Homo sapiens: one gene and its partners. The protein of the gene in region 3 interacts with the protein of the main gene of each other region in a pairwise test. Each region holds a gene or a part of one and is shown on either strand. Other genes may lie near its edges. The genes, in order: PLAGL2, DIP2A, GPATCH2L and ZNF398.

The links.
Region 1: the proteins of GPATCH2L (region 3) and PLAGL2 interact in binary tests that used the Homo sapiens proteins (3 or more experiments, as listed by UniProt).
Region 2: the proteins of GPATCH2L (region 3) and DIP2A interact in binary tests that used the Homo sapiens proteins (3 or more experiments, as listed by UniProt).
Region 4: the proteins of GPATCH2L (region 3) and ZNF398 interact in binary tests that used the Homo sapiens proteins (3 or more experiments, as listed by UniProt).

What each region holds. Positions count from the first base shown.
Region 1 is NC_000020.11:32,197,726-32,204,959, forward strand, and holds part of PLAGL2 (zinc finger protein PLAGL2), read right to left. Parts: exon of another isoform or gene 5,755-7,234; intron 4,568-5,754; 5' UTR 4,454-4,567; coding exon 4,194-4,453; intron 1-4,193. UniProt on the Homo sapiens protein: Shows weak transcriptional activatory activity.
Region 2 is NC_000021.9:46,566,868-46,570,726, forward strand, and holds the end of DIP2A (disco-interacting protein 2 homolog A), read left to right. Parts: intron 1-502; coding exon 503-755; 3' UTR 756-3,148; downstream 3,149-3,859. UniProt on the Homo sapiens protein: Catalyzes the de novo synthesis of acetyl-CoA in vitro. Promotes acetylation of CTTN, possibly by providing the acetyl donor, ensuring correct dendritic spine morphology and synaptic transmission.
Region 3 is NC_000014.9:76,210,710-76,214,865, reverse strand, and holds the end of GPATCH2L (G patch domain-containing protein 2-like), read right to left. Parts: 3' UTR 523-4,156; downstream 1-522.
Region 4 is NC_000007.14:149,178,273-149,183,596, forward strand, and holds the end of ZNF398 (zinc finger protein 398), read left to right. Parts: intron 1-375; coding exon 376-1,529; 3' UTR 1,530-4,770; downstream 4,771-5,324. UniProt on the Homo sapiens protein: Functions as a transcriptional activator.

The DNA of each region.
Region 1 (7,234 bases), on a different chromosome or scaffold from region 3:
GAGATCACAAGGGATGACTGGACAACCAAAGGTGTCCATTAACAGGAAACTAGATATAAAAACCATGGTAAAGGCTTGCAATGCAATACCAAACCAGTTATATTCTACAGATATCCTTGCCTATCTGCAAAATAATGTGTACCGACATTCTTTGCAGCATTGCTTGTAGTAGCAAAAAAAATCAGAAACAATCTGAACGTCCAATCTATCAATAGGGAACTGGTTACATAAATTATGATAAGTCCATAAAATGACTCAACTTTTCAAAAATGAGGCTTTTTGTGTACTTACAGGGAACATGCTCCTAAGAGACAGGAAGTAGAAAAAAAGCAAGGAGGCAGAATAGTGGATGTAGACTAGGACTCTATGTGAAAAGGGGAAAAATATATGTATGTTTGCTTGTATATGGCTAAAATATTTCTGGAAGGACATACAAGAAACTGATACCAGTGGCTGCCTATGCGAAAAAGAACCGAACAGCTTATAGATGGGTGTCATGGAGAATTTTCATCGTATAAGTTTTGGTACTTTTTGAATTTTGAATTACGTGAAAGTATTTCATTTTTTAAACATTACATTTAAATAATTTTAAATGATACAATAAAGAGAAAATAAAATATACCTAAACGTGCAGTCTGGGCACAGTGGTGCATGCCTGTAATCACAGCACTATGGGAGGGTGAGGCAGGAGGATCATTTGAGCCCAGGAGTTTCAGACCAACCTGAACAACATAGCGAGACCTTGTCTCTACAAAATCTTAACCATTAGATGGGCATGGCAGCATGCACCTGTAGTCCTAGCTACTCAAGAGGCTAAGGCAGGATTACTTGAGCCCAGGAATTTGAAGTTGCAGTGAGCTGTGATCGCACCACTGCACTCCATCCTGGGTGACAGAGCAAGACTCCGTCTCTAAATAAATAAATAAACTTCCTTATCTAGAACAAATTTCCAAGATATACAGGGCTAAGTCAAAAAAGGAAGTTCAATACAGTACATGTGATACAATCTGTTTTGAAAATAAAAAAGAAAGAGAATATACATGTTTGAATGTCTTAGGAAGGATACACAAAAACCAACCCACCAGCTGCCTTTGGGGAGAGGAATAGTGACTTCGAGTGTGAGGATCATTCATTCTTCACTGCATGCCAGTATGTACCACTTGAATTGCTTGTCATATAAACCAGTAACACTTTAAGAAATGTTTTAATGGTATGGCACTTCAGTGTCCCTTGGTTTACCTGATCCTATATGGTTGAAAAGTGGCTCAGAATCCAGGAACTGCAATTCACAGCTCCAGAGCATATTCAGAATCAACTCAGCACCCACTGTTTGCCAGGCTCTGCATAAGCTGTGTCATTAACCTTGATCTCCAGACAAGGAAAGGAGTCTAAAAAAAAGGCAGCCCCCTCACCCTAGCAGAGGCTGAATTTAAACAGGCCTTCGGAAGACCTATGTTCAGTCAGGTATGCAACAGCTGTCTCTCTCTCGTACAGCACTCTGTGATCCTTTCTACCTGGAGGGTATCAAACACACCCCCTGCCCACATCCCACATATGCATGCTCAAGAGTGCTCGTGCCTATGTGGGTTACTGTCAACCTCCTGTGATGGAACTGACGTGGTAATGTAGAGAGGGAGGTGCTGAGTGATCCACTTTTCATTTCCCTCATTTTGCAGGTGAGGAAACTGAGGCCCAAAGAGGTCTAGCAACTCACCTAAGATCACACAGTAAATTATATGTGATGAGTCAGGGCTCCTGCCTCCTGACCCAGGACCTTTCCTGCAGCCGCCCACTGGCAACCAGATCATCATTAAGAAAGTCTAAGAAGGCCGGGTGCAGTGGCTCATGCCAGTAATCCCAATACTTTGGGAGGCTAAGGTGGAGGGACTGCTTGAGGCCAGGAATTTGAGATCACCCTGCACAACACAGGGAAGAGATCCTGTCTCTAGGAAACATGCAAAAATTAGCGGGTGTGGTGGTGGTACATGCCTGTGATCCTAGCTACTCAGGAGGCTGAGGCAGGAGGATCACTTGAGCCCAGGAGTTTGAGGCTGCAGTTAGTTATAATCACGCCACTATACTCCAGCTTGGGCAAAAGTGAGACCCTGTCTCAAAAAAAAAAGAAAAAAAAGAAAGCCTAAGAGTATGGCCTTGACTGGAGTTCCCTTAACTTATAGGAGCACACAGAGAATCTAAGCACTCCTGAGGACCACAGAATTGTCAAGAGGGCAATCCTGACTACCATGCTACCCTGTTGCCTATTTTAGTCCCTTCCTATTAACTGTTTTCCAGATGAGGAACTGAGGCTTTGTGGTCATCTTGTTCATGTATTTACTTGTTTACTGTCTGTACCCACTATTAAGACCATAAACCCAAGGAGGACCAGCACCCCCATCTGTCTGGCTCACTACTCCGCCCCTTGCACCGAGCACTGTGCCTGGTACAGAGCAAGAGCTCAATAATGTTGGATAGATGAATGGATGGTTGGATGACTGTGCATCAGGCCAATCTATCTCATTTCTTTTTTTTTGAGACGGAGTCTCGCTCTGTCGCCCAGGCTGGAGTGCAGTGGTGTGATCTCGGCTCACTGCAAGCTCTGCCTCCTGGGTTCACACCATTCTCCTGCCTCAGCCTCCCGGTAGCTGGGACTACAGGCGCCTGCCACCGCGCCCAGCTAATTTTTTTTGTATTTTTAGTAGAGACGGGGTTTCACCGTGGTCTCGATCTCCTGACCTCGTGATCCGCCTGCCTTGGCCTCCCAAAGTGCTGGGATTACAGGCGTGAGCCACCGCACCCGGCTGATCTATCTCATTTCTAAAGGGCAAGTTCATGGTTCCTCTAATGCGAAAAGGATAAAATCAAAATTGCTCTTTTTTGTTTTTTTTGAGACAGTCTTGCTCTGTCACCCAGGCTGGAGTACAGTGGCACAATCTCAGTTCACTGCAACCTCCTTCTCCTGGGTTCAAGTGATTCTCCTGCCACAGAGTCCCAAGTAGCTGGGACTACAGGCATGTGCCACCACACCCAGCTAATTTTTAAAAAATTTTTAGTAGAGATGGGGTTTCACCATGTTGGCCAGGCTTGCCTCAAACTCCTGGCCTCAAGTGATCCGCCCGCCTCAGCCTCCCAAAGTGCTGGGATTACAAGTGCGAGCCACCACGCCTGGCCCAAAATTGCTTTTGACCATGCCTCCCCATCCTCACCAAAGCAACCAAAGCTGCTCTTCTCTATCTGCCTTATGTCAGGGCTTTTACGTTTAATTTCACTTTAAGTAGGGGTTCTTGGGCTTACAAGTTTCAGAAAAGCAGCTGCCCCAGTGGGCAACAGGGAGACAGACATAGTTAAATGAGTAAGTAGCAGGCTGATTCAGTAGAAGAGGCACTGCAGGACCTCTGAAGCTGTGTGACCTTGGGTAAGTTATGTCCCTACTCTGAACCTCTACTTTAAAATTTACAGACTGGGCCAGAAGGTCTACTTTTCCTTCTAAAGTTCGAATACTGATTCCTAACTTCTAGCTAAAATTCTGACCATCACCTGACAAAGGTGAGGAAAGCAATATTTAAAAAAAAATGTTCAGGGCTAAGTGCGGTGGCTCATGCCTGTAATCTCACTGCTTTGGGAAGCCAAGGCAGGAGGATCACTTGAGCCCAGGAGTTTGAAACCAGCCTGGGGAACACAGCCACACCCCCATATCTACAAAAAATTAAAAACAACCAGGTGCGGTGGTTCAAGCCTGTAATCCTAGTTACCTGGGAGAATGAGTCAAGAGAATCACTTGAGCCCAGGAATTGGAGGCTGCAGTGAGCTGATTGCACCACTGTACTCTAGCCTGGATGACAGAGCAAGACTCCCATTTCTTAAAAAAACAAACAAACAAACAAACAAAACTCAAGGCTGCCTGACATTGGCACCCAGATCGTCACTAAGAAGGTGTAAGAAGGCCAGGTGCAGTGGCTCACGCCAGCAATCCCAATACTTTGGGGAGGCAACCCATCAGATTCTAGTGTCTGAATCAAGCAATCTGAATCATTTTTTAGTGAGTGACTTCAACTGTTTGGCATTCAGGGTATACTTGTAGGACAAATTAACCTCCACTCTTCTGCCACAGATTAAAAACCCACACTAGGCAGAGTCTCTCTGCTTTTTCCCTCTGGGAACCTCAGGGCAGGAAGAGATATGAGAGTGTCACCTACCTATACAGCTTGTATTTGGAAGCAAAAGCCTTGCCACAGTGCAGCTGAGGGCAGCTATATGGTCTCTGCTCTGGTTGCGGGAGGCTGTGAGGCCTCAGCTTCTCCCCATTTGAGAAAGGTGTTCCCGAAATTTCACATTGGCACTTCACTTGACTCTCCGCCTCCCGGCCCCGAGGCCTGGGAACTAGTTTCCAGCCCACTTCCTCCTCCTGCTTTGCATCTTGAATCCAGGGGGGGACGCTGGTGAAAAATGTGGTCATGGCAAGGCTAATGGCAAAGGGCCATGTTATTGAGAAAGCCTCCCCATCCGCTCCACACAGGCTCTCAGCTCTGTCACAGCCTCCAACGCAGCTTTCAGAAAACAATCTCTTCACCTGAAACATCAGAACACCTGGTGTTAGGGAGCCCAATACCATGAGAACATGGGCTCTGGAAGCAGACAGATCCCGTTCCAATCCCAGCCCTTCCACTTAGAAGCTGTGTGACTTTCAGCCAATTACTTACTTCCCTGAGCTGTTTCCTCATTTATAAAATGGGCATAATAATCTCCTAAATTATAAAAATGTTTTGAGGATTAAATGAGATCATGAATATAAAGCATTCAGCAGAAGGCTGGGCATCCATTAAGTGCTTAGTGGTAGCTACTATTACTAGTACCATCTAGGCTAATAAGAAACAAGATAAACTGAGGAACCAAAAGCCCCAAAACTTCAAACTTTTTCTTCTGGACCTCACTTTTATATCCTTTCCATTGAACCTAGAGATAGCGGTTCCTCCTTCTTATTACCCTGGCACCTCCTCGTCCACTACTTTCCACAATTGTCCTCCTCATGGAGGTGCTAAGGAGCAATAAAATGCCCAAAAGGCAAGAGAGGAGGAAGGGGAAGCCTCTACTTAGGAAATTTACATCCTAGTCAGTCCTGGTACCAGATGTGTTTCTTAGCAGTGCATCAACATCAGGAGGGTCTATATGGGAAGGCAACAGCAGATTCTTAGCATTTTCCCTAAACCAGGACTAGAACTGGTCCCATCCTGACCACCACCACTTCTCTGGGTCACTGTGTCTCAGGGCCCAGACCATCCCTCTTTAGCAAAGCCTGTCCAACACCCCTAGGTGCTGAGAGGCCCCTCCTACAGGGCCTCAGAGTACATATGCACATCTCCTTTAGAAGACGGTAGCGAGCTCGCATTGGAATTTACTCCTCTCCACCAGCCTGATTGTCTGAGGGCTTGCATCATCTCTCTTTCATCTCTATATACCTAATATCTAGAAAAGGAACCCTAACTTTATTTCAGATAGGTAAACTAGTCACTGAATGCAGGTTGATTCTCAGGGACCAACCTAGGCCCAGGTAGTTCTGGTTTAAACTGGGTTCGCAGCCATTCCCAAGTGGGGAGCCGAAATCTTAAAGTCTGATTCTTTCTCTTGTTGAATAGAAGGGGAGATGTGCAAGAACGACACAACTCCATTCCAGATACTAATCCAGAGGAAGAGGATGGGAGTTACCACACTGACTCTCAAAAGGGGACAAGAGACCCACATTCATACTCCCAAGCTTACCACAGATTACCAACCACGATGCAACCTGCTACAACAGGGGGATTCCCTTTGAAGAGATGGTGCCAAAATTTGATCATGAGGCTTTTCCATGTGAAGAGAGAAAAGGGGGTGTCTGGGGATTATCCACGAGAATCTGGGGAGGGCTCCAACTGCACAAACTAGCTGTGGGCCACAGAATGCTTGCTCAGCTCATTAGCACCTGCTGCTTACAGTGACCATTCATCCAACAGACTGGCCGTGAACAAGATGATGGGATCAGCGGGTTCATGCCCCAGAGAGCTTTGCTCATCATTAACATGAGCTACGTCCTGTTCAGGAACCATTCCTCTTGTTGAAGAAACACTGCGATGTAATATGATAAACACGTCCCCATCACGAGTGTAGATTTGTCTAGAAAGATCTGCATTAAGGTGGCTGCATTTTGCATGAATCACATGCTGGGGAGGGGTAGGTAGCACTAAAAACTAGTCCCACTTGAGCCTTCAAGTCATTATGGCATATGTGCCTGCTTCACTATAAACCTCAAAGGCCTGTGACGTCTGGCTTTCATTGTTTAAGTCCCCTCCTCCTTTGCAAGGGTGGAATTACCTGTTTGTAATACCAGCAATTACTATGCACCTTGGAATTGAGCAGAGAGTGTGCTCGAGTGTGCATGTTTAGATTGGAGGGAATTACCCCTACCTTCAAAGTCAAATTCTACTCCCCCTTCAATTTGAAATCATGCACCTCAGCCTCTGGAAAGTTGGGAATGGCAGCCAGAAGGAAACAAGTCACATCAATTTGGCTGATGTGAGAGAGGAGCCTAGCCCTGGAAACTCCACACAAACTCAGAAAGAGAACATTACGTCCCCACCTCCCACACGTCCACCTCATCTGTTCTCCTGAACAAGCACAAACAAGACACAATAGTTTAGTAGGCTGCTACTGAAAGAGTGAGTAATGGGCTTCTAGGAAAGAGGCTGGTGGTGGCTAAGGAGCTTGTACTGATAGAACCAAAGGAGGAAAGCAGCAGCCATGTGCTCACCTTGATCTGCTTTTAATGGGGCTATGTCTTCACAAAGAAAAGAGCCAACACCCTGATCCTACTCTCCTACACTTTTCAAAAGGCACAGGAAGTCCCTACCTACAGTCACCAGCAGCCTCTTGGATAACCAAAGCTGCTAGTGTTACCTAGGAACCCTTTTGGGGATCTAGTCTCTCTCTGCCCTTTGTCTGAAAACTCCTCTGATCCAGAAAGATTCCTGGGTTTGTCTTACATAAGCAGAAGGCCTGTTCCTTCAGACTTGTCCTTCCTCAGCAAAACTGTGAAAGAATTCTACTTCTCTTTCAAAGCTGCTCTTCTGGTCTCACATTTTAATCTTAACAACTATAGACTATAGAGAAGCTGACAGAACCTGTTTCCATAAAACAAACACAATCCTTCCCAGTTACTGGCACAACTCAGTATATTTTCAGCCTAAGATTCTTTCTAGTGCCTGAT
Region 2 (3,859 bases), on a different chromosome or scaffold from region 3:
TGCCAGAGAGGGCTGAGGACTTCTTGTGGGTTCTCCCTCTGGATGTACTCTGCAAAACATGGTGCCAGAGCACACCTCACTGCCTGTGTTTGGGTTTGGCTTGTTTTTTTATCTGTTTCCTTATCAGTGGTAAGCTAAGAGATTGTCCCCAAATGCACAGGCAAAATGTAGATTTCCACAGGTCTCATCCTGAAGTGTTTCTACTTTTAATATGAGTTTCTCACATGGTTGTGACTCCTGATTCCTTCACCTGTAGGGAACTTGTGTTGGGACAGGTACAGCTTTCAGCATCAGATAATGCTCTGATTCTCAGTAAAAGCTTTAGTTGGAATAGACATCCTGTAAAATGGATCTGGCCTGATCTTTAGATTGTAAATGGCCTTAAATAGCTGTGTGACATTGGTGGGCTTCACTCTTCTTTGTGCCACCCTTTCCCAAGCATTCATTGGCCCCTGTGACCTGTGCCTGTATCCATGTGACCCAGTCTGTCTTCTCTCTGCAGTGCCGTATTCACCTGGACCAACCTGCTGGTGGTGGTGGTGGAGCTGGATGGGCTAGAGCAGGATGCCCTGGACCTGGTGGCCCTGGTGACCAACGTGGTGCTGGAGGAGCACTACCTGGTCGTGGGAGTGGTGGTCATCGTGGACCCAGGGGTGATCCCTATCAACTCTCGGGGTGAGAAGCAGCGCATGCACCTGCGGGACGGCTTCCTGGCTGACCAGCTGGACCCCATCTATGTCGCCTACAACATGTGAGCGCAGCACACCGGCCCAGGTGCCGGAGATGAATGAGCCCCAGCAGTCCAAGGTGTGATGTGGGAAGACACCGCAGAGCTCACTCACCGGGACTCGCCCTTCCTGTGCTCTTACAGATCCCTCTCAACAATCCCCGCATCTCCTTTTAGAAAGCACTTCCTGAATTATTTAAAGAAATATTTTGAATCTGCCAAGTACATTTACAAAAACACGGATGCTGGTATTTTAACAGATGGAGAGACAAGGAAAGGAAAGGAAAGGCCTGGCATGGGCATTGTGAGGAATCACAGGCACCGAGGTTGTTCTCTGCTGTACTGCAAGTTTGCACTTTCTTTAGGCTAAAAATATAGTTCCTGATTTTTAAAATTCAGTTATTTATTCCCACTTCAAATGACAAGTTCATATATAGAATTTACGGGAGAAACTTGAGACCATTTACGGGGAGAAACTTGATTCTGGGAAGATAGCAGAGTACAAACCAGCTGCCTCACTTCTGTTTCACAGGGAGGCTGATGGAAAAAGGAAGCAAGCTGGACCCATCCTCCCTGCTCACAGAGGGCACTGTGGTCACACACAGTGCCTCCTCTGCCAGTTCCTTTATTGAAAGAGGTGTGCTGGCTGGCCACGGTGGCTTACACCTGTAATCCCAGCACTTTGGGAGGCCGAGGCGAGCAGATCACGAGGTCAGGAGACCGAGACCATCCTGGCTAACATGGTGAAACCCTGTCTCTACTAAAAATACAAAAAATTAGCCGGGTGTGGTGGTGGGCGCCTGTAGTCCCAGCTACTTGGGAGGCTGAGGCAGGAGAATGGTATGAACCAGGGAGGCGGAGCTTGCAGTGAGCCGAGATCACGCTACTGCACTCCAGCCTGGGTGACAGCACGAGATGCCGTCTTAAAAAAACAAAAAAGAGGTGTGCTGCTTGTCAGCATGTATTGTCACGGACACTCAATAAGTGCCATTTTGGACTGTCAAATTTAGATGCTTTGTTTCAGAAAGATAAGCCAGCATTTAGTTTTAAATCACTTTCCTGGTTTGTAACTTGATGCTGTTTAGTTAAATTGCTAGTTTTCCTAACACTACAATATTAATTCTTCTCGTGGAAGTGTACTGATTTATTATTTTTATTCCAAGTCAGCAGATTTGGAAGCATTGTGGTAAAGTCTAAGGTTTTCATATCCATAGTGCTGTTTGGTGAGTACCGGCAGTACAGTTGAGGGGAGCAGGGAACAGCATTGCCCCGTATTGAAGGTGGAGATGGTTACATTCTTCACTGCTTTTTGCATTTTGAGTTGTGTGCCTATAAAATTTGGCCAAACCATTTTATTATTTTGTTCAAACTTGACTAAGCTGAGTGATCTAAAATTATACAGAACCTAAATCAAAGAAGAGAATGTAAAGTCCTTTAGTTACTTCTAAGAATTTGAAGTCAAGCACGAATCTAAGACATAGATTATTTTTATATAGCTAATGAAGAGTATGTTACGAAATTGTTGGGTTTTTGGGGTATTGAGGGTGGCAAATTTTGTGAATCATGCATGCTTCACAGAAACAACCAGGTTTTTCCAGAATTAGTCTGGATCAGTGCCTAACAAAGCTGTTATTAATTCTCCACACATGAGTCTGGCTAACTGGGCCAGCTCTCATGTTTTACTCCTGTCTGGCTACAAATAGCACTGTGCATAGTAGCCCTGTTTCCCCATGGTGTTGGACTGTGGTAAAGTATGTTGTGACATACTGGAATTCTAATAATCCTGTTGTAAGTATGTACAGAATCTATGTAACTTATTGTTGACATACAGAGGTTTGGGAAGTAGTCTAATGGACATTCCTTACAATAGAATGGCTGGGAAGGGAAAGAAAAAAAAAAAAAAACTACCTAACTCCAATCTTAATGTTGTAGTTTTATAGCAAACAAAAATTGTCAGCTTTTTGTATTGAAAGGTCAGTGGTGGTAAGACAAGGTGTCTTGTAAATTAAGATTTTAAGAAGTGCATTAAAATGTTTTAGAATTACTCTGGGAATTCTGTATATCACACTAAAATTTTTATATCATTATGTTAATAAAAGTTATTGACTTTGTAATTCTGCATTTTGAAATGTGTGAAAAGGGTCTTTAAATTACCCCGAATAGGTTGTATCTTATTTTGCTTTTTTTCTGACTATAAAAGCAGTTATGCTTATAGCATAAAATCTAGAAAGCACATTAAAGTATAAAGAAAATTAAAATTTCTTATAATTCTACCTCTGAGTAAACAGCAGCATTCGTATGTAACATAAACCCTCTCAGGGATTTATTTTTTCTTTTTAAAAATTTTTTACAAAATTAGGATCAAGTGCTTTTTTAAATAATTTGCTTTTGTACTTAATAAATTATAGACTTTAAAATCTATTACATATATTCTTCTACATGTTTCAGTGGCTGTATTTTACAAGTGTGCCATGAGTAAATGTAGTATTTGCTGTATTGCCGTACATCAGCGTTGTTTCAACAGGACTGCAGTGAGCCCAGATGCACGTTTACACTGCCATGATTACAATTACTGCCTTGGGCTCAGTTCTTATAGGTAGAGTGAGTGGGTCAGAGTTCATGCCAGGTGTGAAGCTTTGGGTACCTGCTGCCCTCCAGAAGGGCAGGATGACAGCATGGAAAAGGCCTCTTTGCAGATGCCAAGTAATGTTGGCAATGGACATGTGCTCAAGATTAAAATAACTCTTTAACAATTTGATAGGCAAATAAGTGTTGTGTCTGGTCATGTTGAATATGTCCTCGTGTTCATGGCCATTTTTAGTTCTTATCTGATGTATTTTGTTCAGATTTGGCAGTCCTTATGGTCAAGTTTTTTCTTACTGACATGTAGGAGTCTCTTTCTATTAAGAATTATAACCTCCATATACTTCTTACTTTTTCTTGTGGGTTATTTGTATTTTGGTTCTATCTGTTTTGGTGCAGATGGTTTTTTAGATGTTATATTTATGCAAACTGGTTATTGTGTTTGATTTCAGATTATGAATATAGCTGATTTATTTCAAAGTGGTTCTACTGGAATGATCAGCATAAACCAATGGGGAGTACATGGCAGAGAAATAACTAACCTCCAGT
Region 3 (4,156 bases):
TTTCCCATGCATTTCATGGTTTTAGGGCTTAGATTATACTAAGCTAAGAAGATAAAACTGACTGACCTTTGGCTGCAAAACAAAAAGAGTTTGTTACTGACTGCTATGGTATAAATGTTTGTGTCCCCCGAAAACAGGTGGAAATCCTAACCCCCAAAGTGTTGGCATTGAAGACAGGGCCTTTGGGAGGTCACTAGATTAGGAGGGTGGAGCCCTAGTGATTGGGATTTATGCCCTTATAAAAGAGACCCCAGAGAGCTAACTAGTTCCCTTCACCATGTGAGGACACAATTAGAAGGTGCCATCTATGAACCTGAAGGCAAGCTCTCACCAGACATTGAATCAGCCAGCACCCTGATCTTGGACTTCCCAGACTGTGAAACCATAAGAAATAAATTTCTGTTGTTTATTTTTTTAAAAAAATTAGGTAAGGTAGCAAGATATATTAGCATACAAAATCAGTAGCTTTTATATAGAGAGCAATAACCAGTTAGAAGACATAATGGCAGAGGAAATCTCATTTACTAGCAAATAAATTAAATACTTAGGGATAAGCTTAGCAAGAAATGCACAAAACCTACACAAGGATAATTTTAAAACACTGCTAAAAGGCACAAAATAGACTTGAATAAATGGAAATACATCTCCTATTCTTGGATAGGATGACACCACATTTTAAAGATGTTAGTTCTCTCTAAATCAGTTAATATCATATAATATCAATAAAATACCAATGTACCTTAAAAAATGAATTTAGACAAGTTGATACTAAAGTTCACATGGAAAAACAAACATGTATGAATAGCCAGAAGCACAATAGGAAAAATTATAAGGGGGACTAGCCTTGCCAGTTGTTAAAACATACTATAAAGTCTCTATAATTAAAACAGTGTGGTACCATGCACAAGTAGACCAGTGGAACAGAAAACCCAGAAAGACCCAAGTACATATGGATCCTGGATTGAATACCGAACCAGAAAAACAACATTACTGGGAAAACAGCTACAATTCAAATAAAGTATGTAGTTAATAGGATTGTGCCAATGTTAATTTCCTAGTTTCAATAATTGTACCATTGGTATGTAAGTTAACATTAGAAGAAGCTGAGAGAAGGGCACACAGGAAATCTATTTTTGCAGATTTTCTGTTAAGTCTAAAATTATTTTTTTTAAAAAAGGTTTTGGATCAAGAGCCCCTGAGAATGTGAAGAGGGGGCTCTGTGTCAGGCTAACATGGAACACCAGAGGGAATAAATCGCCACTGCTCACATTCCCTGAGCTGGCCTCACTTTATCTCTGGCTGGTGAGCTTTTGCTTGGATTCTATAAAATACACGTCTTTACAATAAATTCCATTCCATGCTTTAAAATGTAAAATAAAAAATTGGTGTTACAAAAAGTTTCTGTTAATTCTCCAAATGCATTTCTTTGTTTTCATTGGGTCTTTAAAAGTATTTAGTCTGTCATGCTAATTGAAATACTTACTTCATTTCTTCTATGACAATTGTTATATTAGATTTCTTTTGATGTCATTTTTTGGCAAACTATACCTTCCTGGAAAATTATCCATTTAATCCAAGTTTTTAAATTGTTTGCATACAGTTGAGCAAAGAATATTTTATGACTCTTACCTATTCAATACTTGGTAATTCTTATTTTGTGTTTGTCTTCTCTTGTAATGTTAGCTAAAATGTTACATATTTTACTACATATTTTAAAAATTAGCTTTGTTTCCTCATTTTTCTAATTAATTTTTCTTGATTCTTTTAGCCTGCCTTTAAAAGATTCCTTTTCCTAATATTTTGAGTTATATGACATTTATCTTATTTTTTAATACATAAATTTTAGGGCAATGAATTTTCCTCTGAGCACTGTTTTATTTGTATCTCAGAGGAACAAGTTTATATTTTAGATATGAAATGTTTTTTTAATACTTTGCATTTCCTAATCAACCCAAGAATAGTTGAAGAGCTTAAAAACATTTTGGATTGCAGATGAGCAGTGTTTTCTGGCTTTAATTTATTGCATTTTTTTTTCTGACCACCTATCCTCAAATTCTAAGTTTATTGCATTTTTATCAGCAAATGCCATCTGTTGTTCCTTTTTTCCGTTCTGAAACTTATGTTTTCTGTACGCTCTAATACACAGTCAAATGGGGAAATGTTTCATGGATACTTTGAAGTGTAGTTACCACTTTTAGGGTAAAGTCTAATATGCATCAACTAGATCTTCTGTATCTTATTTAAATCATCCCATGTCCTAGTTTTTTATCCACTTGATCTGTCATGAATTGACAGAATTGAATTAAAATATCCAACTAACATTGTATTTGTTTCTTCCTGTGTCTCCTATGGTTTCCAATACATAAATGGTTTTCCATTATTTGGTACACAGATATCTAGAAACATTATCTCGTGAGTCACACCCTTTAGCATTATGTCGTGGTTTTTTTTGGTTTTTTTTTTTCCGGTTCCTTTTCCCTAAGTTCAACCTTGCCTGATATGCAGACTACAACTCATTTTCTTGTTTGTGTTTGCTTGGTTTACTTTTGCTCAACCTTTCTGAATCTTATAACATGAAATTAGTGTTTGCTGACATTTTTGCCTTTTATCTACAGATAAGTTTACTTTTATTAATATGACAGGTACATTTGTTCCTATTCTATGGTTTTAGACATCTTTCATTTTTGTGATTTGTTTGGTTGTGCATACATGTTTTTTCTCATAATTAGCAGTCTGAATTTTTCTTCTAGTGATAATCTCTTTAATCATATTTTCATATGATCCCCATAATCCTCTATTTCACTAGTCAATATACCTTAATTCTCTACTATGAGCAATGAAAAATTAGTAATTTACCTGTCCTCCCTATACTATTTTAATAATGGAACATAAGTCACTTTCTTATTTCTATGTACAAAAGCTAGACTGCATCGCCTAATTTAAAATGCTGGTCAGTCAGAAGCTGTTCAGGAAAAATGTTGGCCCAAAACTCATAATTATTTCACTTTTATGCAGTTTCAAAAGATTTAGCTAACTTTATTTATAGCACGGTATTAATGAGACCAAAATCATGGGATCAGAACTTAGTGTGAGCCAGCAGATTGGTTTTATCCCATGGGCACTTCCTGTAGGCTTAAAATATCAATGATTGCTAAGGTGTTCAGTCCAAAAGGTGTAAATAGATCAACACAAATTTATTGTCACTACTGAGAAACAAAGCCCAAAAAACTTAACTGGTAGTTGAACAACTTTGACACTGAAGAACAGTACAAGGAACTAAGACCATCACATTGTGCATTAAACTCTACTAAGTCGGTGGTTCAAGGGGAATAACCTCAGACTGGTATCATGCTAGAACATGTAATGGAATCAGTCAGCCATGATTCCAAATACACCATTACTTCCAATTCAGTTTAACCTAGTTTTAACATGTCAGTAGCTCCTACCAATAAGTGGGCCTAGCTATATTTCCCACGGAAGGTGATCAAGGCAATGCAAATCTGTTCACATCTCAGTTCCAGCTTTGTATGCACAATGGGCCAGTTGCAGTAGGGTTTCCACGAATGCACCCTGAGCTTAGCAGAGGAATACGGCAATAGTTCTCCAACTCAACAAGTAAGCCAGTATACACAGGACCCTTCACTTCCTGGCTCTTGCCTTTCTCTCTTTGTTCCTCTGTAAGCTTTACATGTGGGCCATACTAAAACACTTGCAGTGCTCTGAATAAACCATGCTTTTACCCTTGGAGGGCTTCATCCACTCTTCTTAACTCCTGCTTATCCTTCAGGATTTCTTTCAATGTTTTTTTTTACTTCTTCCACTGCCCAGTTTGAGTTAAAGTGCCCTCCTCCTTGCTGCCAAAATACCCTGTCATTCTTATTTCATTCTACATTGTAATACTTTTTTTCTGGTCTCTTCCGCAGAAGACCATGAACATCATGAGAGCAGGAATGCCTTTCTTCTCTGTATACCCAGCTCCTAGCAGAGTGCTTGGCATAAGATGTGTTCCATACACATCTAATGAATGAAGGGGCATTTCTAAAAGCCAAGACTGTTAAGGCAGCTTTTGCTAACAGTCAAAAGAAATGTTTACCAAGGTGTTGAAAACAGTCTATCACTAACATTAACATCTCAGAACACATATCCCCCTCACTTA
Region 4 (5,324 bases), on a different chromosome or scaffold from region 3:
CAGAGCGAGACTCCGTCTCAAAAAAAAAAAATTACCTGAGCACGGTAGTGCATGCCTGTAATCCCAGCTACTCAGGAGGCTAAGGCAGGAGAATCACTTGAACCCAGGTAGTGGAGGCTGCAGTGAGCTGAGGTCACGCCACTGTACTCCATCGTGGGCAACAGAATGTGATCCTGTCATAAAATAAATTTAAAGTGTCATTTCATTTCTCTGATGATTTGCCACAGAGACCACAGATGTCTCGGTTATTATTGCAGCCTTCTGCTGTATTTCTGATCTGAGCTTCGAGTGATCTGTTAGAGCTGGGTAGGAATGCATGAGAGTTGCTAGTGAGACAGTTATTGATGGGTATAACTCTGGAGTCTTTTCTTTCAGATGAAGAGCTTGTCATCAAAGCTGAAGGCCTTGCTAGATCCTCGTTGTGCCCTGAGGTTCCAGTCCCTTTCTCTTCTCCACCAGCAGCAGCAAAGGATGCTTTTTCAGATGTGGCTTTCAAAAGCCAGCAGTCTACATCCATGACACCTTTTGGACGTCCAGCCACTGACCTGCCTGAAGCCTCTGAGGGACAAGTGACTTTTACTCAGTTGGGTAGCTATCCCCTCCCACCTCCAGTTGGCGAGCAGGTGTTCTCATGCCACCACTGTGGCAAGAATCTCAGCCAAGACATGTTGCTGACCCACCAATGTAGCCATGCTACTGAGCACCCCTTACCCTGTGCCCAGTGCCCTAAGCACTTTACTCCACAGGCGGACCTCAGCAGCACCTCCCAGGACCATGCCAGCGAGACACCCCCCACCTGCCCACACTGTGCCAGGACTTTTACTCACCCATCAAGACTTACCTACCATCTTCGGGTCCATAACAGCACTGAGCGTCCTTTCCCCTGTCCTGATTGCCCCAAGCGCTTTGCTGACCAGGCTCGACTCACCAGCCACCGGAGAGCTCATGCAAGCGAAAGGCCCTTCCGCTGTGCCCAGTGCGGCAGGAGCTTCAGCTTGAAAATCAGCCTCCTGCTCCACCAGCGGGGTCATGCACAAGAGCGCCCTTTCTCCTGCCCTCAGTGTGGCATTGACTTCAACGGCCACTCGGCCCTGATCCGCCACCAGATGATCCACACAGGCGAGCGTCCTTACCCCTGCACTGACTGCAGTAAGAGCTTCATGCGCAAGGAGCACCTGCTGAACCACCGGCGGCTGCACACAGGCGAGCGGCCCTTCAGTTGTCCTCACTGTGGCAAGAGCTTCATCCGCAAGCACCACCTAATGAAACACCAGCGCATCCACACCGGGGAGCGGCCCTACCCCTGCTCCTACTGTGGCAGGAGCTTCCGCTACAAACAGACACTCAAGGACCACCTCCGTTCAGGCCACAATGGAGGCTGTGGGGGTGATAGTGACCCATCAGGTCAGCCACCCAACCCACCAGGTCCCCTCATAACTGGGCTTGAAACTTCTGGCCTGGGTGTCAACACTGAAGGTCTAGAGACCAACCAGTGGTATGGGGAAGGGAGTGGAGGGGGAGTTTTGTAAATCCAAATCTCTGTGGCTTCATGCTTGTATATGCTCACAGCAGGGCACAAAATCCAAGAGAAGGTCTGTGAGCCCCATCCAACACCCACAGTAATTATTATCTGGCACATCAATGAATTTGGGGTCCTATACACTTGACTAGAGACATGCTTGTGTTTTGGAATTTCACACCCTTACAAGAATACCACATTTTGAAACCCAGAAAGACCTGGAAAGGAGCCCAGCATGTCCATCTTTTCAAAGATACAACAAAAGCAGAAGTTACAAGAATATTGCGGAGAGGTTGGAAAGCAGGATTTAACCTCTAGTTCTCTTGTTCTCAGAGAACAGCAGGTTGATAGTAGATTATGTCTCTAGGTAGAGACAGATACATGAGAAGAGCCTCCAAAACTGGAAGCCCATCATAAGGCATGAGAATGTTTAACTATAAAGCCTTTTATTAGTTCTTTGATAGCTAAGATGGTTGTTGGAGAAAGTGCTTAAGCCACTGTTTATGTTGCTGCCTCCTCTCTCAAAACCAGCCAAGATCTGTTCACACACCTCTGTGGCTGTCTTTCCCTGAAACATGGTAACTCAAGACTGCCTGCCTAGGTTTCTTAGATTAATTATTCACATAAATTTTGTTTAATATTGGTTGAACAAGAAATCTGACTTTAAAAGATTATTAAGGAGAATATTCCTTAACTATACTGGCTTGATTTGAAACAGGCTCTTATTGCCATTTAAACTGCCAGAAATCTTTGCCAAGGTCCTGGTTAAAAAAATTGGAAACGGTTTTCTTAGCCCCAGCTTTAAAAGCTAGAGATCTCAGAGAAATAGCTGGCTTAACAATGACAGAACAGCTTAAAATTTGTGCCTACACCATGTTCTGAGAGTCGTTCACATCAAATTCTTATCTTTTCCAAGCCAGTAAGTTGGCTTCTCCATTCCTGGTGTCTGATATTCTTGACAATCATCAGCAACAAAGATCACAGCACTTTCCAGAAGCATGGAGCTTCAGAAAGTGCCAGTGAACTCTTGGTCCTCAGTAGTGAGATGATAACAGTGTTATAATGCAGCTTCCTTGAGCCATCAGAGAGAGTGTATGTTCACCCTATCTGGCTGTATCCCATTGGCAGTGGACAGATTGAGGAAATTCCTAGATCACTGAGAGCTAAGCACCATGCATAGACAACAGTTTGTTCTTGCCTGTGTTGCTTTTAGGGACTTTGACTACCACATGTTCTTTTCTTGGGGTGATTTAATCACCTGGGAGCATCTGAGTCTGCTCCTAAGTGGCTTTGCAACTGGGCCTAAGTTCTGTTTCCTTTATGGATCTCAAATTTTCATCTGCACAATGAGGCTGTTGAAAGGAAAAAAAGTGAGCCTCTAGGAATTATTCAAAAAAAGTCTGTGATACATTCCTTTTCCTGCCAAAGTTCTGTCTCTGTCTTTGGCTTCTGTCCAGGCAAAGCTAAATAAGACAGCAAAGTCAAAGCAGATAAATTCTTGTTGAAACTTGACTAAAATTTATTTGATTTGTTGTTTTACTCCCACTTGGAATCCTGAGGTAGAAGACAGAATGCAGAAGTCTTACATCTTGGGCAGGAAACTGGTTTATTCCTATACTCTTGTTTCCTCTGCTTCTTCCTGAGGTCTAGAACAAGGTCTGGAAATGTTTAGACAGGATATTTTCTTGATGAAGTGATAAGGAAAGGACCCATTTTTTTGCTCATCACCTAGCCCATCCTTCACTCTCTCTAGTTATGCATAACAACACTAGAAGAAGGTGTTAGCCCAGCTAACTTTGCTTCTGGGAAGGCTATGTCTGAACATGTTGCTCTGTAGGATAATCACACTTAGAAAACATCTGCTCCATGACATTCACAATACCAGGGACCATGGGAGACACAAGAAATGTGTGTCTGCTGTCATAACTTACAGTGAAAAAGCCCAATAATACAGAACAAGACATGATGGGCAATACCCTAGCATATTGGGATTAAGAGCTTTCTAGCCAGAATCTGGACCTATACCATGGGAAAATTTAGGGGTGCTGGGAATCCCAAAGCCAAGGTTCTGGCTTCATTGGCAACCCACTAGGAACTTGAATGTGAGATTCAGCTCTAGTTTGCACCTTGATTTCCCCAGTGAAAAGGGAGAAGAGCCAAAGTATTGTCTAGGTGCTGAGTTCCCTTTTCTGAGTGGATTTCAAGCATTTGCCAGGGTATGCTGGAGGAGGGACTCCTAAAGTAGGTGAGATGTGGGACTAGGTAACACTTTAAATACTTTTTTACTCAAAGATTTGCCAAGAACACAGCTTATTAGTGAAAGAGACCTGTGGATTGAAATGGCTGCAGATAGATCCCGCAGTCCCTTCTGAAAGGAACTGTGTAGCCAGCAGGGACCTAAACTTTGGCAAAAAGTGAACACAATTCAAATACGAATGAAGGAAGAGCCCTCAGATGGAACGAAAGGCGATGTGCAAGGCCATCCCAGAGAGACGGAAGCAGGTGCGATACTAAGCCTCAGCCCAAGAATAAAAGAGAGTTCAACTGTTACTCTTTTCTTTCATCAATCCCCTATCAGTTAGAACTGCAGGCCAGTTCCAAAGAGTGTTTGCTTAAGATTCAAAAGTGGGTAAGTAAAATGGATCAGTGGGAAGGATAAGGTGTCCAACAGAAAGTGTGGAGGAGAAACTCTTGGCCTATCAAGTGCTCCTGAGAGAAACCATGCAATTTAACACTTCAGTTAAAGAAATACATGAGAACTGCTTGTCATGACCAGACAAGATAGGAAAGGGGAAACCCCAGAAACGTGCTCTTCATCTGTCAGCCTTTTGGACCAAGAAGCTGTCACTATCACACATAAGCACCATTCCCTTAGAGTGGATCCAGGTGTTGACTATAACCAGATTTACTCTTTGCTTACTAGGTTTTCCATTGTCACCATTGGATGAACCTCTGGTTTAGCCACAGTTGTGAAAATAAATGGAAGTTGGTTGATTGTCTAGAAAGTGCAAGAAGATGGCCCTGCTCCTTTTCTGCTGAACATTTAGTATTGGAAACTCCTACTTCCCTTTTCATTAATAATGTGTGCAAGTTTCCTATTAGCGGGGAAGGTGTGGGGCTCTGCTGGGCTTCTCTTGAGCATATCTGAGAAGTGATGTTCATGTCTATCTCAACCAGGACCAGACCCTGTGACTTACTCGGTAATAACAGTCCACACAAGCCTCGTTGATATTAAAAAAAAAAAAAAAAAAGGACCTCATTCCAAATGGAATGGGAATCCCTAATTTCTGCTCAGATTTTCTCTGAGGAGGGGCAGGACTCCTGCCCTTCCTCTCATGTCTTAGCTTCTTAAACTACAAAAAGCATCCTCAGTGACTGCCTGAGGGCAGCTCAGTAGCCATGAACAAAAGCATCTTTCTTTCTCAAAAATATTTTCTTACGGACAAGGACCTCTGATGTCACCAAATATGTTTTTTTTTTTCTTTCTTTGTGCCTGATTTTTTTTTTTTTTTTTGAGACGGAGTCTTGCTCTGTTGCCCAGGCTGGAGTGCAGTGGCACGGTCTCGGCTCACTGCACTCCGCCTCCTGGGTTCACGCCATTCTGCCTCAGCCTCCTGAGTAGCTGGGACTACAGGCGCCCGCCACCACGCCCGGCTAATTTTTTGTATTTTTAGTAGAGATGGGGTTTCACCGTGTTAGCCAGGATGGTCCCGATCTCCTGAGTTTGTGATCCACCCTCCTCGGCCTCCCAAAGTGCTGGGATTACAGGCATGAGCCACCGCGCCCGGCAACCTGATTGATATTT